Homo sapiens: one gene and its partner. The protein of the gene in region 2 interacts with the protein of the main gene of each other region in a pairwise test. Each region holds a gene or a part of one and is shown on either strand. Other genes may lie near its edges. The genes, in order: SMYD2 and SNX11.

Region 1 (7,270 bases), on a different chromosome or scaffold from region 2:
AGAGCTTAAAGTATGCCAGAGTACCAGGGCACTGACAACTCCTTTGTTTTCATGAACTCTTTGTGAGGCAGAGGCAGAGGCGAATTTCCTACACTCCACCCATCAATGAGGGCCAGCAGAGGGGACCTTGATCTGCTCAAGGTCACTGAGCAAGGCTATGGCAACACACGGTCCAATTGGCTCAGAGCTTCGTTGTCAGGAAGATGCCATCATTCTATTTGCATTCATCTTCACTGAGTGCTTGCTAGGGAGAGGGCCTTGGAGAGGGAAAGGCCAGACTGAGTGTTACCTGCTGCCAGCGTCCTTACCTGTGCAAAGAGTACTACGAGGCTATCATTGTCAGGGAATCCGAGATGCTTGGAGTAAAAGTGATGGAGAGCAGCTATGTCACTCTGAATCAAATCCTTCTTCTCATTGTCTAACTTATCCAGATCTGTGGATAAATAATCCATTATTCACCCAGTAGAAAGCGTGGGATTTCTAGCTACATCCTATTTTTGCTGTAAATGATACAGAGGAAAGGAACGGGCGAAAAAAAAAAAACCCAAAACTAACATGTTGAACCCCCAGAGAACATTCTTCCCCATTACTTGGTTTAACTGACAAACCCTAAGGAAAGAAAGCAAGCCATTTCTTCCTTCTCTCCCTCTGATGACTAGAAGTCACTTGGGACGTGAGATTTCGACTGACTGTTAGCAATGAGGTCAGGGATGGGTAGCAATGACTCATAACCAGCCTCAGCCTAGTCAAGGGCCCCCCAATTGGCCCGGGAATCTGGGCCGTGGTCAAACAACTGGACAACCCCTGATTTCACGGCTTTCAGTAAGAACATCAGCTATTTAGAGGACGCAATTCAGCAAAGATCCAAAAGTATTCAGCATGCCAAGAGGGCCAGCAGGAGGTAGCTCAGGGTGCAATAATTCATTTTGGGAGCTCCTACCTCCTTTAATTATTTCCTAACAATCCTGTCAACTCAGAAGAAAAAAGCTAAAAGTGCTTTTCGAAACAGCACAAGAGTAAAAATAAAAACTAGTAATCAAAGAAATCACTACTCCTCTGAGCACAAACTAGCCCGTCCTCGCTTCAATCCTGCCCAACCCATGTGAAATCTGTGGCTGAGAGAACTGCGCGGCTGGTCACAGAAAGACTTACGTGATTCAAACTCCTTCACAGCTAACAATTTTTCCGAAGGTGTTCTCTCTGGGTGGATTTTCTAGCAATTGGGGAAGAAATCACACAGATACAGATTTTTTAACAACCAGTGTAATAAAGTGGCACTTTCACTTTTACATCAACATAAAGAAAAAGTAACAATTCTTAAGGAAGTAAAACAAGCTACTCAAGGACTCCACCACTAGGGCTCTCCACCAGCCAAATCCAAAGACTCTTCTAAAGCGCTTTTTTAAATGTCTACCGTGTACCTAACACCCTGATAATACTATGCACACAGTAGGCTCAGAAATACCTGTTACGGGAAAGAACAGGGCCGGAAAACAACTTTTTAGGGTCCTTACTTAAAAGGACTGGGTCTACAGACAAACCATCCTATTTATTATTTCTCCTTCTAAAAAGGAACAAAATCAAACCCCCCATCCATTTTACACTTTCTTTAAGCATAGGCTAAAATGATCTCAAATTCTGTGTTTCAAAAAGAACACTTTTGGTTGTATCTGTGAGCCCAGATTCACTTTAAACGCGTTGCTGGCTTTGTTCTAGACACCCCAAGAGGAGCTAACAATAGTAAACCCGCTAGGCTTTGAGAACATGAATAAACTTGGTGTTGACAAGAGTTCAAAGGCAGAGCTCAGGAGCTGGCCCAAGGCCATGTCTTTGTAATGTGGCTATTCAATTTGGGGATACAGGTGGTCTAGCAGGGCACGCTCACCTCCCTAGTTAACATGTTAAGCCTCCCCTTGGTAGTTTGGTAGCCTGTCTCCCCTAATCCTTTGCAAGCTACTAGAATACAAATGGTCTGTTTTTTTAATCATCAAGTCCTATAGAGATGAAAAGATGGGCAGGTAACTTTCATTTAATACACTATTAGTAGTAGTAGTAATTATAATAAAACTTGAATGAAGCTTGTATAAACTCATCTTTGCATTCAGACTACCCTCCTGGTGCCGAAATATTTCAATAGTTCTTTTTTGGAGCAGAAATCTTCCATTCACGGGATGCATTTTTATAAGATTTATAAGTCATCTCGCTTGGGAAAGCTTTTCATTCAGGAAAGTCTACCAGCCTCTTCTGAATTCTTAACATATCACTATAAATATCATCAATAATTCAGGGGAACAAAATAATAAAACACCAGCTTGGCCACCCAATCCTCCCAAGATGTGCGGAGATCCCATCTGATGACTTACTGACTCTGATACCTCACACCCAGTCATCCTATTCCCTCTGACTTATTCAGCCCAAATACTCTGCATAAATTTAAAAATAACTGTTATTAAGGATCCGAAAGTTAACCTCCTGCAGGGAAACAATTCTGATGTTTTGGTCTCACTCTACAGGCAACCCATGAATGGCCTTTGTTACTCTCGGCTGGCTGGCGAGGTAGCATTTCGGCAAGCACCTGACCCAAGCTGAACATAGCTGAAGGATGACCTCAGAGTTTTGAAATGTTCTACTTCTGTTTACACAGCCCAGGATCCTAACTTGGTCTGGGGACAGATACATGCTAATCATTTCCATCACATTTGGCTTAGATTAAAAAATAGAAAAATTTTAAGGGTGGAGGAGGGCTGGTAGGTATACAGGAGAAGTGGATGAAATTTCAGTTTGTTTTTTTTTTTCATTTTTAGAGACAGAGTCTCATTTACTTTGTTGCTCAGGCTGGATGGAGTATGGTGGCACAATCACAGCTCACTGCAGCCTTGAAGTTCCGGGTTCCAGTAATTCTCCTGCCTCAGCCTCCAGAATAGCTGGGACCACAGGTGTATACCACCACACCTGGGAAATTTTTTTAATTTTTAAAATTTATTATAGAGAATGGGTCTCACTTTGTTGCCAAGGCTGGTCTCGAACTCCTGGATTCAAACAATCCTTCTGCCTTGGCCTCCCAAAGTGCTAAGATTACAGGTATGAGCCACTATGCCCAGCCAAAATTTCAGCTTTAAAAGATTTATAGTCCAGAGGCCCTGCCACCAACTTCTCTGACAGCACTGAGGAGCAAGACCTCCACAGCCTGGACATATGCCTTCTAAGCCCCACACTGCCTATTTCATTGGATCACAAGGACAAGTTCTATGGCATTTTCCTGTCCTCTTTTTAGTTTGGCCCTTCGAAGATTAGGTGTCTAATTATTATGCAATCAGCAAGAATGAACCAGACCAGGCGGAGAACAGTCAGTACGGTGGCTAAAGCAATTTCATCTTGGATGCTGATATACCATGTTGATTTCTGGTTAACTCCTGCTCTGGGAATGCTTCTAAGATTTCTACTTTGTCTATGGCTACCTTAAATCCTGCCTTAGGTCAATACAATCTTGAGCACAAATCTTGCTCTCAGGCAGATTTGCATAGCATCCTTGCCTTTCCTTGTAACTGCTGTACACATTTCTTCCCTATGGTATATAAGCCCTGGCTCTGGTGGGTAATGGTGCAGGGATCCACCATCTTGTCTTGCTGCCGCCCAAGACATAGACATGGCTTCAGTTCATAAGTCCTAGTAAATGTTTCTAATAAACTGGATTTGTCAGCTTCTTTCTTCTGTCTCTCAGCTTCCTCACTCTTTGAGCGTAAGTTTGCATAGTCCTGCCCACCACAGAATAGTCAGAGTTGGCATCACTTCTGGAGAAAGCCATTGATGACTATCATCTGTTTCCATCAAGGGCACCTCTTTCTTTCCTTCTTCTTCACTTTTTTTTTTTAACTCTCTTCCCCTCTCCCTTGCCTCTATTTCTACTTTTCCACTCTTTCTCTTCTTTGCACATGTCATAGTCAAGGCTGTTCCATCCAATTCTTTGCCTGCCTATGCACAGGCAAGAAAGGAGCCAAGAAAGAGCAGAATATTACACAGGAAAGGGGAACAGAGTACACTCTTTATGTCAGAATGGAAAGAGAGGAAAATCTCAAAGCTGCTCAGACCAATCTGGTTCCCTAGGAAGCTCTAATTATTTGAGGTCAGGCTTTTCATGTCACGTATTTCCATGTAAACCTGTCATGAAAACAGCTCAGAATTTCAGAGCTGTGGCTATGCTCCTGGTCTAGGGTAAGCAACATCCTAATTGCACAGGGCACACAACTAACTAGATTATGCCTGGAGTATTTTCCCCACCCCTGTCCATATGGATATGATAGGAAATGTAGTCTAAGGATGTTTAACGAGAGATGGTTACCAAAGGTCAGTTACTCATCTTTCTGACCTTTAAAAGAAAAACAAAATAAAATGCACTTGAACATTGTCCCATTTCCTCACCTGTTTGGCCAGAATCCTTGCTGTTAGTCTTACAGTCTCCGAGGGATTCCAGTTTTCCCCAAAAACAACCATGGGAGAACATTCCAGCTTGTGCATGGGCCAATCTTCTTTCTGGGAAGATTGAAAAAAACATTATTAAAAAATAGCACATACACTGGAATAAAGTGTGAGAGGAGAGGATGCAGTGAGTCCCCCTAGTTAAGGTCAAGTAAAATATGTTTCCTTTTGGAAAACACGAGGATGCTCACAAAAGCTAGAGATAAAAACATCCTTTAAGATAGGCAGGATTGTATGACCTTCACTCAGGCCTGGGTCAAGCTTGTTGGGATGAGAAGATCTACTTTGTGTTTTTTCCTCAAGCACCTCATGGCTTTCTGCAGCCCCTCATTATTCTAAACAACACATACATCTTTCCATCATCTGTGCAAGCTGTCAAATTGCAGAGGGAGCAATTTGAGTATCAGCCATTGATTTGGCTTTGTTGCCTCACAGTTCCGCTCTGGCTTTGTTCTCACGTCAGGGCAAATAATGGAGAGTTGACTTACACAGCAATGAGTCCCTTTTACAGGCGACTTTTTAAAAAGCACAAATGAGGGTTTCATGAAGGGCAACCACTGGAAAGATTTAGGAATAGTTAGGACTTCCCAAAGATGCACTGGATAAAACAGTAGTATTCTTTCTTTCCTTTTTTTTTTTTGAGACAGAGTCTCGCTCTGTTGCCAGGCTGCAGTGCAGTGGCGCGATCTCGACTCACTGCAACCTCTGCCTCCCGGGTTCAAGTGATTCTCCTGCCTCAGCCTCCTGAGTAGCTGAGATTACAGGTGTGTGCCACTACGCCCGGCTAATTTTTGTATTTTTAGTAGAGACGGGGTTTCAAGATGTTGGCCAGGATAGTCTTGATCTCTTAACCTCATGATCCACCTGCTTCGGCCTCCCAAAGTGCAGGGATTACAGGCGTGAGCCACCGTGCCTGGCCTAACAGTAGTATTCTTTCTATCATACGCCCTGAAGTTTCCCTGCCCCGGGTAGAGGGATGAAGGATATTTGCTGCTGGAAGGGTGGAGGCGCCATCACTTGAGATGGGGAAGGCATTGAGAGAAGGACACCATGGTGTTTTGGAGGCTGAGGGAAGCAAGTACTTTGAGGACTAGGGAGTAAATGATGATGCCAGTGCTGGAGATAGGCTTAGTGTGAGAGGACGGAGAATGTGATTTGGAATCATGGAAGCTTGATGATTTTCATAAAAACAAGTTTTGGTGGGATGATGGGGTAAGAAATGACAGGGAGCAGATTCAAGAAAAAATGAAAGGAGACACAGCTTAGAGTAGTGAAAAGTTGCGGGGGACTTTTTTTTTTTTTTAGATGGGAAATATCAGAGCACGTTGTATACTGATGGAAGCCCTTACACACTGTCTCTTTCACGATGGAATTGGGTACTGTCCTGCTCTGTCCTTGGCCTTCCCTAGCTCAGAAAATGGCCATAAATGCTCAGGGCAGGGAGGCTGACATGGGCGGATCACCCGAGGTCAGGAGTTTATGATTGGCCTGGCCAACGTGATAAAACCCCATCTCTACTAAAAATAAAAAAATTAGCCAAGTGTGGTGGCATGTGCCTGCAGTCCCAGCTACTCAGGAGGCTGAGGCAGGAGAATCGCTTGAACCCAGGAGGCAGAGGTTGCAGTGAGCCGAGAGTGCACCGCTACACTCCAGCCTGGGCAACAGTGTGAGATTCTGTCTCAAAAATAAAAATAAATGCTCAGGCCAGAAAGCTAGAGTCATCCTTGACGCTGCTCTCTCACTCACACTCCACATTCAGTCAGTTCTGGCAAATCCTCTGTCTCTGCCTGGAATCTGATCACTTCTTAGCTCCACAACCTTTCTACCCGGCTGCAGCCCCAACATCTCTCATGACTAATGTCCTGCCACTGCCTTCTAACTGGATGCCCGCTTCTGTCCTTGCTCCCATGGACTAGGTTCCAGAGAGCAGCCTGAGGGATTCTGTTGACAAAACTCGGATCAGGCCAGTCCTCAGCTCAAAACCTAATGGCTTTTCTCATCCAGGCAAAAGGCCAAGCGCTAAAGGTGACCTAGGAGGCCACACGTGATGGGAGCGTCCCTGCACCACCCCAGCCCATCATCCCCCACCGTACTCTCACCTGCCTCACTGCACTTAGCCACAGAAGTGTCCTGGCTGCGCCTGGAGCCATGTACCTGCCTCAAGGCCCTTCGCACTTGCTCTGTTTTGTGGCTAGCACTCTCCTCCCCTGGATATCCATGTGACTCCCTCCCTCCTCTCCAGCCGCTGCTGGAATGTCACCTTCTCAAGATACCTGCCACAATCACCCTGTCAGAAAGAGCACTTCCCCATCATTCTTCCTTTCCTTGCTTTCTGCTGCTTCTTAGTACTTCTCACCACCTGAGCATATTATATATTTATTAGTTGTTTGGTTTAGTATCTGTCTCTCCCCAGGAAAATAAAGAAATTTTGTTTTGTTCATAGCTGTAACCCCAGAACTGACAACAGTGCCTGGCATTTAGTAGGCACTCAATATAGTTGTTGAAGGAATGAAGATATCTCCCTACCCGCTTCCCTCCACACTGATCCCCCAAGAAGGAAGCACATAATGTCACTTAATGATTTAATGCAGTCTATGGTGCAGCCCCTTAGCTCAAGTTCTGGGCCAAGATGTTCTGCAGAGTTAAATAATGCCGCGCCAAATATAACTAAGAGCAGGGAGGAAAAGAAATGACAAGATATGCACAAGGGAGAAGAGAATCTGTTTTTAGCCAAAGCCTAAAATGAGAGCATGGTGATGAGGCGAAGAGGTGGGAACAGGTGGGTCTGTCTCCC
Region 2 (7,270 bases):
AGGTAAATTGGAAAGGGAAATTAAACCTTATTGTTTCTCTCTTAAGAGAGAAGGGGGTGCAGGCGGCAGCCAGGGTGGATGCTGTTGGAATAGTTGTAGAAGTAACAAGATTAGTGCTGTATTTTAACAGAAGGTGACATCATGGGCCCCATTGGACTTGAGTAACCCCGTGCTGCAGCCTTCATGGTCCCCTTGTCGGAGTGGGTGATGTCGCTATACACGTGAACTGCCACATTGGGGAAAATCAGGGGCTGAGGCTTTAATGAATCTTTACAAAGGAGCAGAACGCATCCTGAGTCGACCTGTGCAGCTGTGGGGTGCTTGGACAGAAGTACAAACCGGATGGCATGTCAGGAGAGGAAGTAATTAGAACAATTGGCTCGGGTTCCAGAGTATGGATTGGATAAGGGGAAGGTCCCAACTGGGCAACCCACTCAGGTGCTCCTTGGAGTGCTCTAGCTCTATGATTCACCTGTGGGGAGTTGACTGGTTGTTAGTGAGACTGGGAGAAATGCAGAAGCATTGGTGTTTGTGGGGACTTGGTTGTCTCTAAACAGCCGGGAGGGGGTGCTGTTAGGCTCGCTTTCAAAGCTGTGATCTGGCAGGGCGTGGTGGCTCCCGCCTGTAATCCCAGCACTTTGGGAGGCCGAGGAGGGCGGATCACTTGAGGTCAGGAGTTCGAGACCAGCCTGACCAACATGGAGAAACCCCGTCTCTACTAAAAATACAAAATTAGCTGGGTGTGGTGGCACGTGCCTGTAATCCCAGCTACTCGGGAGACTGAGGCAGGAGAATTGCTTGAACCCAGGAGGCAGAGGTTGTGGTGAGCCGAGATTGTGCCATTGCACTCCAGCCTGGGCAACAAGAGTGAAACTCTGCCTCAAAAAAAAAAAAAAAATGCTGTGATGTGAGTGCTCACCAGACCCTGTTGTGCCTGCATTCTTCAAGGCAAAAGTTTTACATCTGGACCCGCCTGTTCTGGCTGCGTGTGACAAACTTTCTGTAGACTCCAACACGCTTTGGGGAGAGGTGGCCTAGTTGAGGGCCTGGTCTGAGAAGGGAGGCAAATCCCCCAGGGCCTTTTAGCTTGGCATTGAGCTAATGGGGATTTTTTTTTTGCTTCCTCTTAAGTTTTACAAGAACAAAAAGTGTTGCCTGGGTTTCCCCACGGGGGTCTATTAAAAACTTTCGGGGTTTTCCCTGGTAAAGAATGATAAGAACAGAGGCATACTAACCTTGATCCTGTATCCTCTGTCCCTCATCAGATGTTTCCTTCCAATGGGCTTTTGGTGTAGGATGTCGGAGAACCAAGAACAGGAGGTAAGAGTATGGTCTGCAGAGAACAGGTGGGTAAAAGTTGGAGAGGGGATTTAGGAGGAAAGAGGACATAGAGATGCAAATCATTAATTATTACCTGCAGTATTACTTTGGTGGTTCTGATGAGCTCAGAATAAAGTCAGGAGAAAGAAATCAACAGCAGAGGCATTCCTAGGAAATTGGGGTTCCATTCTGACTAAATTTTCCTTTGATTGGAATATACTGGAATGTAAGCTTCATGGGGGCAGGCACTTACGTCTCTTGTTCATGCTTTATCCCCAGTGCCTATAACAGTGTCTGACACGTAGTGGGGCTCAGTAAAAATTTGTTGAATTGAGTGACTGAATTGAGTGAATGAAAGTTGAATTGAATAAATGAAAGTTGGTGTTGAGTGAATGAAAGTTGGTGTTGGGTGGAAAAATCTAGCGACCTGTGTTGTCAGAGCTGCCTTGCTGTGTAGCTGAAGCTGAGGGAGCTTTTCTTACCTACAGGAGGTGATTACAGTGCGTGTTCAGGACCCCCGAGTGCAGAATGAGGGCTCCTGGAACTCTTATGTGGATTATAAGATATTCCTCCATGTGAGTACATCAAGCTTCTGTATTGGGGTCAGCGCTCTGCAGGGCTGAGGGGCTTGTACTGAGGTGTAACCTTTTTTTTTTTTTTTTGAGATGGAGTTTTGCTCTTGTTGCCCAGGCTGGAGTGCAGTGGTGTGATCTCGGCTTACTGCAACCTCCGCCTCCCAGGTTCAAGTGATTCTCCTGCCTCAGCCTCCCAAGTAGCTGGGATTACAGGCATGTGCCACCACGCCCAGCTAATTTTGAATATATATTTTTTTAGTAGAGATGGGGTTTCATCATGTTGGCCAGGCTGGTTTTGAACTCCTGACCTCAAGTGATCCACCCTCCTTGGCCTCCCAAAGTGCTGGGATTATAGGCGTGAGCCACCGTGCAGGTCAAGGTGTAACCTATTTTTGAGTGTTTCTGGTGGACCCGAGACAGAAGACTTAGAAGAAAGGGAGGGAGGAAAGGAAAGAGAGCTTGAGGTATGTCTTTGAGTTGCTTTTGGGCTGCCTGGTGGCACCTTGTTCTAGTTGGGGACCTGATCAGGTCTGTGGCCTGATGGCATGGCTCCTCAGTGAAAGCAATGATAGGGAGCTCATGTGAACTTGTCTATTTCCACTAAACCCTTTTCATGTACTTCATGTGCTTTCATGTATAGACCAACAGCAAAGCCTTTACTGCCAAGACTTCCTGTGTGCGGCGCCGCTACCGTGAGTTCGTGTGGCTGAGAAAGCAGCTACAGAGAAATGCTGGTTTGGTGTGAGTTTGCTCTTGCTTCCTTCTTGGGTCTGTGACTGGCTTTTTGGGTGCTTATGTAGGAACTGGAGTTGACAATGAAGAGAACTTGCAACATACCAGGCACTAAGGAAATTGGGAAATATGTTGTTTCTTTTTTTGTTTTTTGGGTTTTTTTTTTTTTTTGATGTAGGGTCTTGCTTTGTTACAGAGGCTGGAGTGCAGTGGTGCAATCATGGCTCACTGCAGCCTCAACCTCCTGGGTTCTAGCAATCCTCCCACCTCAGCTTCCCAAGTGGCTGGGACTACAGGTGCATGCCACCACACTTGCCTAATTTGGAAAATATTTTTGTAGAGATGGAGGTCTCCCTATGTTACTAGGGTGGTCTTGAACTCCTGGGCTCAAGCAGTCCTCCTGCCTTGGCCTTCCAAATTGTTGGGATTACAGGTGTGAGCCACCAGGCCCGGCTGGGAAATAATGTTTTTTTTTTTTTTGAGATGGAGTCTTGCTCTGTTGCCCAGGCTGGAGTGCAGTGGCATGATCTCATCTCACTGCAACCTCCACCTCCCAGGTTGAAGCAATTCTCTCTGCCTCAGCCTCCCAAGTAGCTGGGATTACAGGTGCCCACCACTATGCCTGCCTAATTTTTGTATTTTTAGTAGAGGTGGGGTTTGTCCATGTTGGCCAGGCTGGTCTCAAATTCCTGGACTCAAGTGATCCACCTGTCTCGGCCTCCCAAAGTGCTGGGATTACAGGCGTGAGCCACCACTCCTGGCTGGGAAATATGTTCTTTTTTTTTTTTTTTTGAGACTGAGTTTTGCTCTTGTTGCCTGGGTGCGATCTCGGCTCACCGCAACCTCCACCTCCCGGGTTCAAGAGGTTCTCCTGCCTCAGCCTCCTGAGTAGCTGGGATTACAGGCATGCGCCACCACTCCTGGCTAATTTTGTATTTTTAGTAGAGATGGGGTTTCTCCATGTTGGTCAGGCTGGTCTCGAACTCCTAACCTCAGGTGATCTGCCTGCCTTAGCCTCCCAAAGTTGCTAGGATTATAGGCGTGAGGCACCATGCCCAGGCCTTCTTTTTTTTTTTTTTTTTTGAGATGGAGTCTCGCTCTGTCGCCCAGGCTGGAGTGCAGTGGTACAATCTCGGCTTACTGCAACCTCCGCCTCCCGGGTTCAAGCAGTTCTCTGCCTCAGCCTCCCGAGTAGCTGGAATTACAGGGGGTTACCACCATGCCCAGCTAATGTTTTGTATTTTTAGTGGAGGTGGGGTTTTACCATCTTGGCCAGGCTGGGTTTTTTTTGCTTTTTTTTTTTTTTTTTGAGACAGAGTTTCACTTTGTTGCCCAGGCTGGAGTGCAGTGACACCCTCCACCTCCCAGGCTCAAGCAATTTTTGTGCCTCAGCCTTCCGAGTAGCTGGGATTACAGGCGCCTGCCACCACGCCTGGCTGACTATTTTGTATTTTAGTAGAGATGAGGTTTTACCACGTTGCCCAGGCTGGTGTCGAACTCCTGAGCTCAGGCAATCCACCCATCTCCACCTCCCAAAGTGCTAGGATTACAGGTGTGAGCCACTGCGCCCAGCCTGGGCAGGCTGGTCTTAAACTGACCTCATGATCCACCTGCCTTGGCCTTCCAAAGTGCTGGGATTACAGACGTGAGCCACCATGCTCCGCCTTTTTTCTTTTTTTTTTTTTTTGAGACGGAGTCTCACTCTGTTGCCCAGGCTGGAGTACAATGGTGTGATCTCGGCTCACTGCTACCTCAGCCTCCTGGGTTCAAGCGATTCTCCTGCCTCAGCTTCCCGAGTAGCTGGGATTACAGGTCCCTACCCCCACGCCCAGCTAATTTTTGTGTTTTTAGTAGTGACAGGGTTTTACCATGCTAGCCAGGCTGGTCTCGAACTCCCAACCTCAGGCAATCCGCCTGCCTCGGCCTCCCAAAGTGCTGGGATTACAGGCGTGAGCCACCGCACCCGGCCAGATATATGTTCTTAAATCATATTTTCAAGTCAGTGAAAAAAGTAGAATCTAATTTCGAGTATTTTTACCTAACAAAGCCATACTAACATCAAAAATATTTTTCTTTCTTTATATGCATATATGTCTAGAGCTCAACAAATATACAGCTAACATTTTAAACAGTTTAAATCTGCTTATCAGAAAATTTTAAGCACCTGGACTTATTTGACAGCTAGTGTTTCCATCCACTTCACATGTAAAAATAATGATTTTTTTTTCTCTTTTAATACAGAGGTCCTTTTCCAGAGACATATGAGAGCCTAGGGAAGGCAGTTATTATTTACTCCTCACACCCACCTGCCAAATAAGTCCTGAAAGTGGAGAGAATTACAACAGTGATTTTGCTGTAGGATGGTCACTGAATACTCAGTGGTGATAGGTGGCCTGTTGAGTGACCAAGTCAGTTAGTTAACATGTGGAACTGATGAGGCTGTTGTCCTGGGGCAGGCCCTAATAAACCAGGTGAAACTCCGTTCCCCTGACAAATCCTATATCCTCCAGCCTGGCCTGTTTTTTTTTTGTTTTGTTTTTCTTTTTCTTTCTTTTTTTTTTTTTTTGAGACAGAGCTTAGCTAAGTGAGCCTCTGCCGGTCGCGGTGGCTCACGCCCAGCACTTTGGGAGGCTGAGGCAGGTGGATCATGAGGTCAGGAGTTCAAGACCAGCCTGGCCAAGATGGTGAAACCCCATCTCTACTAAAAATACAAAAAACTAGCCGGGTGTGGTGGCAGGTGCCTGTAATCCCAGCTACTCAGGAGGCTGAGGCAGAGAATTGCTTGAACCTGGGAGGCAGAGGTTGCAGTGAGCTGAGATTGTGCCACTGCACTCCAGCCTGGTGACAGAGCGAGACTGTCTCAAAAACAACAACAACAACTACAAAAAAATGTGAGCCTCAGCAGCCTCAAACGCCTGGGGTCAAGGGATTCTCCCACTTCAGCCTCCCAAGTAGCTGGGACTACAGGTATGTGCCACCATGCTCAGCTAATTTTTGTATTTTTTGTAGAGAAAGGTCTCACTTTGTTGCCCAGGCTGGTCTCTCAAACTCCTTGGCCTCAAGTGATCCTCCTACCTCAGTCTCCCAAGTTGTTGGGATTACAGTTGTGAGCCACTGCGTCCCACTCCAGTTTCTTCCTTTTTAAAAATAATAGTTGATGGTGGGTGTGGATTTCTTTTTTCCTTTTTTTTTTTTTTTCTGAGGCGGAGTCTCGCTCTGTCACCCAGGCTAGAGTGTAGTGGTGCAATCTCGGCTCACTGCAACTCCCAGGTTCAAGGGATTCTTCTGCCTCAGCCTCCTGAGCAGTTGGGATTACAGGTGTACACCACCACGGCTGGCTAATTTTTGTATTTTTAGTAGAGTCGGGGTTTCACCATTTTGGTCAGGCTGGTCTCCAACTCCTGACCTCATGATCTACGTGCCTTGTCCTCCCAAAGTGCTGCTATTACAGGTGTGAGCCACTGCGCCCGGCCTTTTTTTTTTTTTTGAGATGGAGTCTTGCTCCTGTCTCATCCTGCAGGCTGGAGTGTTTGCAGTGGCACGATCTCGGCTCACTGCAACCTCCACCTCACAGGTTCAAGTGATTCTCCTTCCTCAGCCTCCTGAGTAGCTGGGATTACAGGGGTGCACCACCATGCCCTACTAATTTTCTTTTCTTTTCTCTTTTTTGTTTTTTTTTGAGATGGAGTTTCGCTCTTGTTGCCCAGGCTGGAGTGCAATGGCTTGATCTCAGCTCACCACAACCTCCGCCTCCCAGGTTTAAGTGATTCCCCTGCCTCAGCCTCCCGAGTAGCTGGGGATTACAGGCATGTGCCACCACGCCTGGCTAATTATGTATTTTTATTTTTATTTATTTATTTATTTAATTTTTTTTTTTTTGAGACAGAGTTTCACTCTTGTTGCCCAGGCTGGAGTGCAAGGGTACAATCTCAGCTCACTGCAAGCTCCGCCTCCCAGGTTCACGCCATTCTCCTGCCTCAGCCTCCCGAGTAGTTGGGACTACAGGCGCCCGCCACCACGCCCGGCTAGTTTTTTCTATTTTTTAGTTGAGATGGGGTTTCACCGTGTTAGCCAGGATGGTCTCGATTTTCTGACCTCGTGATCCCCACCCACCTCGGCCTCCCAAAGTGCTGGGATTACAGGCGTGAGCCACCGCGCCTGGCTGTTTTTTTTTTTTAAAGGAGAGATGAGGTTTCACCATGTCGCCCAAGCTGGTCTTGAACTCCTGAGCTCAAGTGATCTGCCCACCTCGGCCTCCCAAAGTGCCAGGATTACAGGCATGAACCATGGCACCAAGCTGGGAGTGGGTTTCATAAACAACATAGTGTGGCTCGGCTTGGTGGCTCACACATGTAATTCCAGTGCTTTGGGAGGTTAAGGAAGGAGGATCACTTGAGGCCAGGAGTTTGAGACCAGCCTGGGCAACAGAGCAATACTGTCTCTACAGATACATAAGTAAACAAATAAATAAATTAGGTGCACACAGTGGCACGTACCGGTAGTCATAGTTATTCTGGGAGGCTGATGCAGGAGGATTACTTCATCCCAGGAATTTGAGGCTGCGGCGAGCTATGCTCACGTTTATGCTACTGCACTCCAGCCTGGGCAACCTGGAGAGAGCAGCTTGGAAAGCAATACCTTGT

Evidence for each region.
Region 1: the proteins of SNX11 (region 2) and SMYD2 interact in binary tests that used the Homo sapiens proteins (3 or more experiments, as listed by UniProt).

Annotation. Positions count from the first base shown.
Region 1 is NC_000001.11:214,312,022-214,319,291, reverse strand, and holds part of SMYD2 (N-lysine methyltransferase SMYD2), read right to left. Parts: intron 4,531-7,270; coding exon 4,420-4,530; intron 1,214-4,419; coding exon 1,153-1,213; intron 434-1,152; coding exon 309-433; intron 1-308. UniProt on the Homo sapiens protein: Protein-lysine N-methyltransferase that methylates both histones and non-histone proteins, including p53/TP53 and RB1. Specifically trimethylates histone H3 'Lys-4' (H3K4me3) in vivo. The activity requires interaction with HSP90alpha.
Region 2 is NC_000017.11:48,110,766-48,118,035, forward strand, and holds part of SNX11 (sorting nexin-11), read left to right. Parts: exon of another isoform or gene 1-2; intron 3-1,265; 5' UTR 1,266-1,278; coding exon 1,279-1,320; exon of another isoform or gene 1,321-1,328; coding exon of another isoform or gene 1,329-1,346; intron 1,347-1,808; coding exon 1,809-1,895; intron 1,896-2,535; coding exon 2,536-2,636; intron 2,637-7,270. UniProt on the Homo sapiens protein: Phosphoinositide-binding protein involved in protein sorting and membrane trafficking in endosomes. Regulates the levels of TRPV3 by promoting its trafficking from the cell membrane to lysosome for degradation.